Linked DNA regions of Homo sapiens: region 1 is linked to region 2. Evidence: fine-mapped expression QTL. A gene starts in region 2. The other region holds a variant in brackets. All regions are shown on one strand. Distances are from middle to middle. Region 1 has its middle 32 kb from the start of TUT7. Region 2 holds the start of TUT7 (terminal uridylyl transferase 7).

Evidence for each region. PIP is the estimated chance that this variant, and not a neighbour inherited with it, causes the effect.
Region 1: its variant is the best candidate, but not a certain one, in a credible set for the expression of TUT7 in whole blood (TOPMed, PIP 0.89).

The regions. Positions count from the first base shown.
Region 1 is chr9:86,384,214-86,388,608 of GRCh38, forward strand. No RefSeq gene overlaps it. Among named protein-coding and RNA genes, the nearest start is that of TUT7, 32 kb to the left of the region's middle. The variant G/A (reference allele first, on the strand shown) is at 2,570.
Region 2 is chr9:86,352,038-86,356,432 of GRCh38, forward strand. TUT7 (terminal uridylyl transferase 7) reads right to left here and starts at 2,373. Exons shown (of 27, transcript NM_024617.4): 1 at 2,234-2,373; 2 at 643-1,193. The coding sequence starts at 1,162. RefSeq lists an enhancer at 2,222-2,431 and a silencer at 2,452-2,631.

The DNA.
Region 1 (4,395 bases), 32 kb after region 2:
AAGGAAAGCTTTGCTGTGTACAATATTCTTGGCCAATAGTTTATCTTTCAGGACTTTGAATATATCATCCTGTTCTCTCCTGGCCTGAAAGGTTTCTGCAAACAAATTCACTGTTAGTCTAGTGGAGATTCCCTTATAGTTGACTTGATGCTTTTGTCTTGTTGCTTTTAAAATTCTTTTTTTTTGTTTTTGACTTTTGACAATTTGAGTATAATGTGCATCAGAGAGAACCTGTCTGGATTAAATATATTTGGGGTTGTTTGAGCTTCTTGAACCTGGATGTCTATCTCATTCTCAAGACTTGGGAAGTTTTCTGATATTATTTCATTAAGTATGTTTCTCTCACCTTTTTTCTTCTTTTCTCCTTCTAGAATGTCAACAATATATGTATTTTTTTCACTTAGTGGTGTTGCATAAATCCTGTAGGCTTTCTTTATTCTTTTATTATTTTTTTCCTTTTGGCATACCTGTGTTATTTCAAAAGTCCTTTCTTCCAGTTCAGAAATTCTTTCCTCTGCTCAGTCTAGTTTGTTGTTGAAGCTCTCTTATTCATTGAATTCTTTGGCTACAGGATTTCTGTTTGGGTCTGTTTATTGATATATATCTTTTTGTTGAATTTCTTATTCAAATACTAAATTGTTTTCCAAATTTTGTTGAATTGTCTATCTGTATTCTCTTATATCTCACTGAGTTTCTTTAAGATTATTATTTTGAATCCTTTTCTGGTATTTCATATATTTCCTTATGATTGGGGCCTGTTACTGGAGAATTATTATTTTCCTTTGGTATGTGACATGTTTCCTTGCTTTTTCATGGTTGATGTGCCCTTACGTTGATTTCTATGCATCTTAAGGAAAAGTAGCCTCTTTGTATTTTACAGAATAGGCTTTGTATGAAAACACTTGTTCAGATGAATGGGCCTTAGAGTGTTGGTTTGGTGTGGTGTGTATTGGCCTTGGTTCGAGGTTGATACAGAAGTGTAGTCTGTGTAATTTACTCAGTTGTAATCCACACTAGTGGTGTTTGTGTTTCTCAGTGGCCTATGATGAGAGAGTTTGTGGTGATGGCAGTGCAGCTTTGCCAGGTTCTACACACATGTACATAGGCATCCCTCTGGCTCAAGGATATATTGGATTTTTGGAGGCTCTGAGGCCTTTCCTGCTTGGGGGAGGGTAACTGGCAGTGATTTGGCCACCTCAAGGGTAGATTTTCCCTGGATGGTACTGGCCAACTGTTCCTCCAGCTGGAAGTTTGGTGAGGGTAGGGGGAGTTGGTTACCCTGTTGCACAGGACCAGAGTCACAGCGGTCCTGGGACCATGCTCTGTACAGCTAGGATTGTGACATTCAGCCACCTATGTGGGCTTGGTGGAATGAGGATGGAGCCCCAGTGCTGGAGAGCCACATTGGCTACTGGACCCCAGAGCAGGGTCCACTCCAGAGGGGGGCTCTGGTCTCAAGACAGTGCTGTGCTACAACACCTTGGCTCACAGTGGGTGAGTGGTTGGGTGGTGCACACCTTATCCTACTAATCTGGGGCAATGCAGCTGTGTGAATTCCCACCAGCTTTCCAAACTGGATTCAGGGCTTGCAAGGATTGTGAGATTCTTCTGATGTAAGGACTTATAGGTGTTTGTGGCAGCAATGGGGATAGGTGGGGCTCTTCTGCTTGACTTTTCCCTACAATGCAGAGTCTCTTCTGACTCCAGGCAGATGTGACCCATGTTGGGGAAACGAGGCTACAGAGTCCTGGTGCCTCCATGCTGTCCTCCTCCACTTCTAATCACCACAGCTGTACCTCTAACTCACCCACTGCACTCTAGCACTCTCCCTTTGACACTCCATTCAAATCTTAGCTCTGTAGTTATTGCCTTGGTCCTTTCTTGCTGAGGTGGGGTTCTGAATGTTTGGTGTCTCTTGGCAGGCATCTTGCTGTTTCTTTTCCTAACTCAAAAGTCTTCTTCTTAAATCAGTCCCTTGTAAGGGGGATGCCATAAGCCTTAAACCAGGGTTTCTCTACCTCAGGACCATTCTCTTTTTGGGTTGGATAATTCTTTGTTGTGGGTTGCCCTGTGCATGGTAGGATGTTTAGCAGCATTTCTGGCCTTTACCCACTAGATGCCTCCCCTCACATTATGACACTCAAAAATGTCACATTTTAGGTATTGCCGAATATCTCTGGGGAGAAAATCACCACTAAGTTGAGAACCACTGCCTTAGACCATCAGGTCTACCCTGGAGCTAGGGGCATGGGCCAGCTTGCTTTAAGGGCACTTGAGTTACATGAGGGAGAGTGAGATATTGAATAAAATCTGGGTCCTTTCCTGAAGGAGAAAGGTGAGAATGGATGGCAGCCAACAACGTTCATTATACCTACATTAATCAAATATGTCTCCAGATCTGGAACATATTTCAGCTTTCCTGTAAATCAGGCTATATGTGGGAAAATTGAAAAATATGTTTAGAATTTTGATGTTTGGGCAGAGAAGAACTTCCAGTAAGACATCAACCATTTTTAGAATATCAAAGGAGACAGAGGATCCTTTTTCTGCCCTATGGTTGGTGGAAGAC[G/A]GAGAGAGAAGCTCTACAATGCTGTATTGGGAAAGAGGCAACCTTCCTAAGGGTCCTTGGGGTCTACTTATACAGTCTTTGCAAAGACCTTCTTTTAAATTAGGCTTAGACTGGACTTTTCTGACTTCTGTGGCTTGAGGAATAGCAAAGAACTATCAGGATCTCCTGATTCTCCCTGCCAAAGAGTCTCTTAGTTTAAATTATTCCAGATATGTTGTGTAAAGCAAAAAAAAAATTATTTCCAGAGCACGTTTTTAAATCTTAGGAAAATCAGTGAGATAGCATACTTGTAGTAATTAAAACCTAGGATTTGCTATTCTAGAATGAGTCATTTATTTATTCATTCATTTTATGTATTCAGCAAATGTTGAGTGCCTGATATGTGCCTGTTATGTGAGGAAAACAAAGTCCCAGTTCTTGCAGCGTTGAATATCTGGTAAAGGCAACACATGTCCTGAAATTGAACACCTAAGACCTGACTCAGATGAATGTACTTTCTCCCCTAAAATTGATCTATTCCTGCTCTGGCACCCTACTGGCCTCTAGGAACTATGGAAACAAATCTTGAACTTACCAGTTAGTTTATCTCAATCTTTTCAAATTTAAATGATGTCTTCTCTGGTTCCACCTTTTTTGGATAGATGCCTCATTGTTCAGATTTCCTTCTTCACTCCCCTTGGATGCCCTCTGAGGATGAGATGAGCTACAATTGTATGATTGGTAAAAAGAGTCCTTAAATACATATCCATAGGTTCGTTGGGAAGCTCTCTTGCTTTTCTGGTCTTTCCAGTCTCTCTCCTTAGCCATCTTGTTGATATCTGATCCTGAGGTTTAAGACTCATGAACTAATGGCACGTTCTCTTGCCTTAGTTCATCTCCAGTGGTTTGCTCCTTTTGACCCACCCTGCACTTTCAGGCCCACTTTCAGAATGCGTGGTCCACCCTTTCACCCTAGGTGTGGTAATCTCTTGGCTACTTTGCCACTTGTCTTCCATGGCACCATAAAGAATCCAGACACACCTGGATTCCTTCCAAGAACACATAAATCTCAAGTATGCCTGAAAGTTCCAATTTTGGCTTTCCCTTTTTGACCATTCCCTGCTGTTATTTTTACAATGCTGAAACCATCCTACGTTTCCATTAAGTGATCTACTTCCCCCGATTCCATGCTGGGCATGGGTCACCTGCTTTACAATTTGCCCTCAACTAATCTCACCCCCAAAGTGATTGGTGGAAGTTCTGCTTTCCTTCCTGTTGCCATGGAGACCAGCCACCCTGTCTTTCCCTCCTCTCCCCACTTCTAAGTCTCAGCCATGTTTTTTTCTGTGGACATTGAATACCCAACTCCCAGCTGTTTCTTAGATCCCACAGCTATGCCTTTCAAACTGTCTCCATGGGAATAGCTCTCTTCTCTCCACACTCATCAAATGCTATAGACTTCTTGCTAACCATGGACTGGACCTCAGGGCTTGCCCAGGGTTAGACTTTTCTAAACGTCTCCGAGAATTCACTAGATCTGGAAGCTGAGTCCATTCTTGGGCCACAGGGCTACTTCCACAGAGCCTGTAGATCACCCATCACTGCTCAAAGCTGGGGCTATCCTCTGGCTTTCAGACGCATCTCTAGGCTATCTTCATCTTTAAAGACTCACCCTGCAGCAGAGGCCAAGAAACTGCTGCCTCCCACCTTATCAATCAGCTGTGCACAGATGGAGGTCCCTCTCCTAGCCCTGGACACAGAGATATGATGGAAAGAAATACAGATTCTTTAGAGAATCTGTATCTCCTTCAAAAGGAAATAGAGCTGGTGTTGGGCAGATCTGAGCT
Region 2 (4,395 bases):
CGAGAAATTAGTTTTGGTCTTACTGAAACCAAACAGCAAAGCTTGAATCTATTTCTGACTTTCTAAACTTGTTTCTCAACCTGTTTGTCACGATCCCTTTTGAAAAACAAAGATCTCAGATTATCCATCTCGGGACACTGACACTACATCCAAAAGATATATCTCTTGTGGCAGGAGATATACGCAGTGTATACTGTGTTTTTACATCAACAAATAAGTTTTTTTTTTAAAAAAAGCTTTATATTCTGTCATTTATATTATGAACACATTAATTATTCAAATACAAAATTATAATCACAATTTTGAAAACACACAAACCACTGAGCAATTACGATATGGTCCCCTGGAGCATATAGCTACCCTCTTCTGTAAAAAACACGTTACAGAAAACATGTTTACTGACGTAAAGTGAGCCCTGGGGCAAAGTAAACTTTTAAAGGGATCAACATATGAAATGTGTTTTAGCTGCTCAAATATCATGATTACTATCCTTAAAATAATCACACTAAGTGACCATTTCTTAAAACAGAAACTGTGAAAAACTGAAACTAAATTGCTGAAAATAACAAAACTCATTTGGATGAAAAAGAATAAAACATTGCTGACTCTGGGGTTGTGATCTGACAAGTTGGAAAACATTACCAGGACTTCCTGCTTCCATTTCTGACGTGGTTTCTAGGCTTGTTAGGTCTTTATGAAACAGTCGTCTTACAGTTCTGCAGCCTCTTGTGTCTTGCCACCTATAACCATCTTCATTTTCTTGAAAGGAGTCTTTTCTTTGTCGGTTTATAACAGGAATTCTAGGTCCAGGTTTGAATTCTCTCCAGTTGTCTGAATTACCAGTATGTTCATCAGACAGCCATCTCTTACTCTGATCTTTGTGGCTGTCATTCATCCAAGCGGGTTGACTGTAGATTGGGTTTTTAAATGCATATGGATTGCTGGAAACAGCACATGGTCCTTTTCTGGGGGTATTCCCATAGTTCCCTGGTGTTATCTTCTTTTTTTGAAGGCCCTTTTCCATTTTACTGCCATGGCCTTTAGCATGGTCATCTATTATTAAATAATCTTGTTGGGGGTGACCCCTTCTGAAGTCATCATCATCCATAGTCCCCCGGTCTTTAGTGCGCTTCACGAAATAAGGTTTTGCTGTATCTCCCATGGTCTTTGACTTCAATTTTCTTACTTTGCACCTGAAAGAAGGTATTTTGGGGAAATATCAAACTATATAACAAGATATCATACAAGTATACAAAATAACAATTTATCGTACAGATGCCCCAAAGCCTGTAAGAAAGAAACTCCCTATTTTTTTAAAATAAAAATTCTATCACATTCTTAATAATCAGTGCTTTACCCTAGAGGTTGGGAGGCTTGGTCCTCTAATATTCTTCATGAAAATTAATACTTACTATTTAGCATGAAGATTAAATGTGTGAATAAGAGAAGCTCTATAGGTTCCAGAACTGTAGCATAGTAGAATATTACTCATATCAAGTATGGTCGGCTTTTCCCTCTGTAACAAGGCGTTTCTCTTCAAAGAAAACCTCATCCCAAGCCAATATTATTACTAAACTACCGAAACAGTCTTTTGTTTTTTAAGTTGGCAATTACTTGTAAGTGTTATACACCGAAACTTTACGTGAAAGGAGTACTACATTTCTCAACTCCAATTTTCCGTCCCTTCACCACCCCTATTCTGGACAGACCGGCTTTGAGCGCTTAGGTTACGGAGGGGCTGGGCTTCCGACCAAGGTGCAGCTGTAATTAAAGAGGCTGGGTTTCCGATCAAGGGACAACTCCATCTAACCTCCTCAATCCCCGTTCTCCAACCCCAAACAAGTTTGGTTTTGTCAGGAACAGCAATTCCCTGAGGAATGACACTCCTCTTCAATCCCCATCTGACCGCTCCACCACCGATCTGCCTTAGTTTCCACCCTTTTGAGCCCGACGTGGAGAAAGAGGAGGCGTCCCTGCACTCCTGGCCAAGAAGCCACCGTGGGGACCAGGAAGCAGGAAGTGACCTGCTGTCTCCATGGGGTTCCAGGGTTCCCCCGGCCGGCCAGGGGGCCAGAGCCGAATGTCTTGACCCAAATCCCGTCTTCTGCGCCCGCAGTCTGACAAAAAGTGAAAACACGGACTCGAACCCGAGGGCTCAGCCTCTGCCGGCCTGGGGGTTCCTCGGTCACCCAAACTGGTGCGAGGAGGCCGGCGGGGGATGGAACCAACGTACCTCCGGGGCCAGGCCGGACAGCTACTCTGGAGTCCAGGAAACCAACTGGAGAATCAGCCCGGAGGCGAGTCTGGCAGGGACGTTGGGAGAAGGCGCCCAAGAGCACTCACCACCTTCGCCGCGGTCCCCAGCCTCTTCCTGTCCCGGCCGGGCTCCCTCTCCGTGTTTTCCTTCGGCCCCACTTCCGGCGCTCAGCGCTGTCTCATTGTGCGCGATTGGGAGCCGACTGTGCCCCCGCCCTAGCGCTCCGCCGCGCACACCGGAAACGAGCGACGCGCCCCGCCCCGCGGTGCCCCGCCCACGCTCCGACCCCGCCTCCCGCGCCTTTGCCAGCCTGGCCTCTCCTGTCCGGCGCCCCAGCGCACTCGCTCCAGGTGTCGGGCGCCGGGTCTGGCCACCGGGCGCAACCGTCGGAGCGGGCTAATTACTGGCTCGCCGGATAGCCGGTTCGCCGGCGCTTGGGGGCCAGGCCCGAACTTCTTACCAGAGCGGCGCCCGCCCCTTTTCTCTCCCGGCTTCGACGCTCCTCTGGTTCCCCTCTCTGCTCGGGAGGCTAAGTGCTCGGGAGAGGCGCGGGAGCCAAGACTTATGCACCCGGAGAGGGACGCGGAGCCAGCGGTCGGGCAAAGCCGCATTCCCCGCGCTTGGGGCCTCGGCTTTGCCCCTGGGTGCTCCCCGGTTACTTCCAGGGGGAGTAAAGGCTCCGAGGCCTCGTAGCGCTCTTGGTGTTTTTCTGATAATTCGTAGTGATTAATGTTTTCGTGAATTCTTAATTGCCGACCTTGTAGAAATGCCAGCATTTAAACATCCACTGCTCACCCAGATCTCAAAGTGGTCAAGGAAAATGCTCTGCTTTTTTCTTAGGTTGTGTAAGGATTACTTTTACTTGGAAAAAAAAAAAATCAGTTCATTTCGAAGAATATGTGTAATGGCAAGGGATGACCAGAGAGCGTTACATTCGAATTTTTGAGTTGAAGAGTGCACACCTCGAACTCGGGGTTGCTTTTTCTTTCTTTACTGTATGACCTTCCTTGCTGTTTACAGTGTTCTAAATGCTTTGAAAAACATCAAGCAACTAGTGAAATTAGGGAGCGTTGGGAAAATCGACAGTTTTCATTTCTCTGCTTTTTTAAAGCATGTAAATTGAAAGCTGTCAGGTCCTGTGGAGCAATGGTCTTAAAATAATAACACACAAAGTTCTGGCTATGCCAATAACTGTTTTGAAGGCTTTACAAATATTAACTCCTTTGTTTTATATTTTTGTAGAGACAGGGGTCTCCTATGTTGCCCAGGCTGCTCTCCAATTCCTGACCTCAAGCCATCCGCCCAACTTGGCCTCCCAAAGTGTTGGGATTACAGGGGTGGTCCACCATACCCAGCCTTAACTTCTTTAATCCTCACAGCTTCATGAAGACTATATCATTATCCCACTTTTAAAGATGAGGACATTTAGCACTTGCAGTGAAGTAAATGGCACTGCTGCAATCCAGACCCTGAATATGAGGCTGTTATTAACCATGTGGCTATACTAAAAGTGATATAAAACACATTCCTACAACTTTTATATAATTCCTTACTTAGATATTTTGATTGTGAAAATACGTGAGGATCAAACTGATAGTCTCTTCAACAGGCAGACAGTGGCCTTGAAAATATAGTCCAAAAGGGAGTGTGGAGATGCATGATTACATTAATTCTGAGACAGCAGCGTCACCACGCCCCACCCAAACCAGTAATTCCTGTGCAAAAGAACTGGTTTAGAAATCTGCCTCCACCTAGAGTTCTAGAGTAGCAGCAGAGGATACATACTTTTAAGGATTTTTTTTTTTTTTTTGAGATGGAGTGCCACTCTGTTGCCCAGGCTGGAGTGCAGTGGCATGATCTCCGCTGGCTGCAACCTTTGCCTCCACCTAGAGTTCTAGAGCAGCAGCAGAGGATACATCTTTCTAAGGATTTAATTTTTTTTTTTTGAGACAGAGTCTTACTGTGTTGCCCAGGCTGGAGTGTAGTGGTGCGATCTTGGCTTACTGCATCCTCTGCCTCCCAGGTTCAAGTGATTCTCCTGCCCCAGCCTCCCAAGTAGCTGGGATTGCAGACAGGCACCACTATGCCTGGTTAAGTTTTGTATTTTTAGTAGAGACGGGGTTTCACCATGTTGGCCA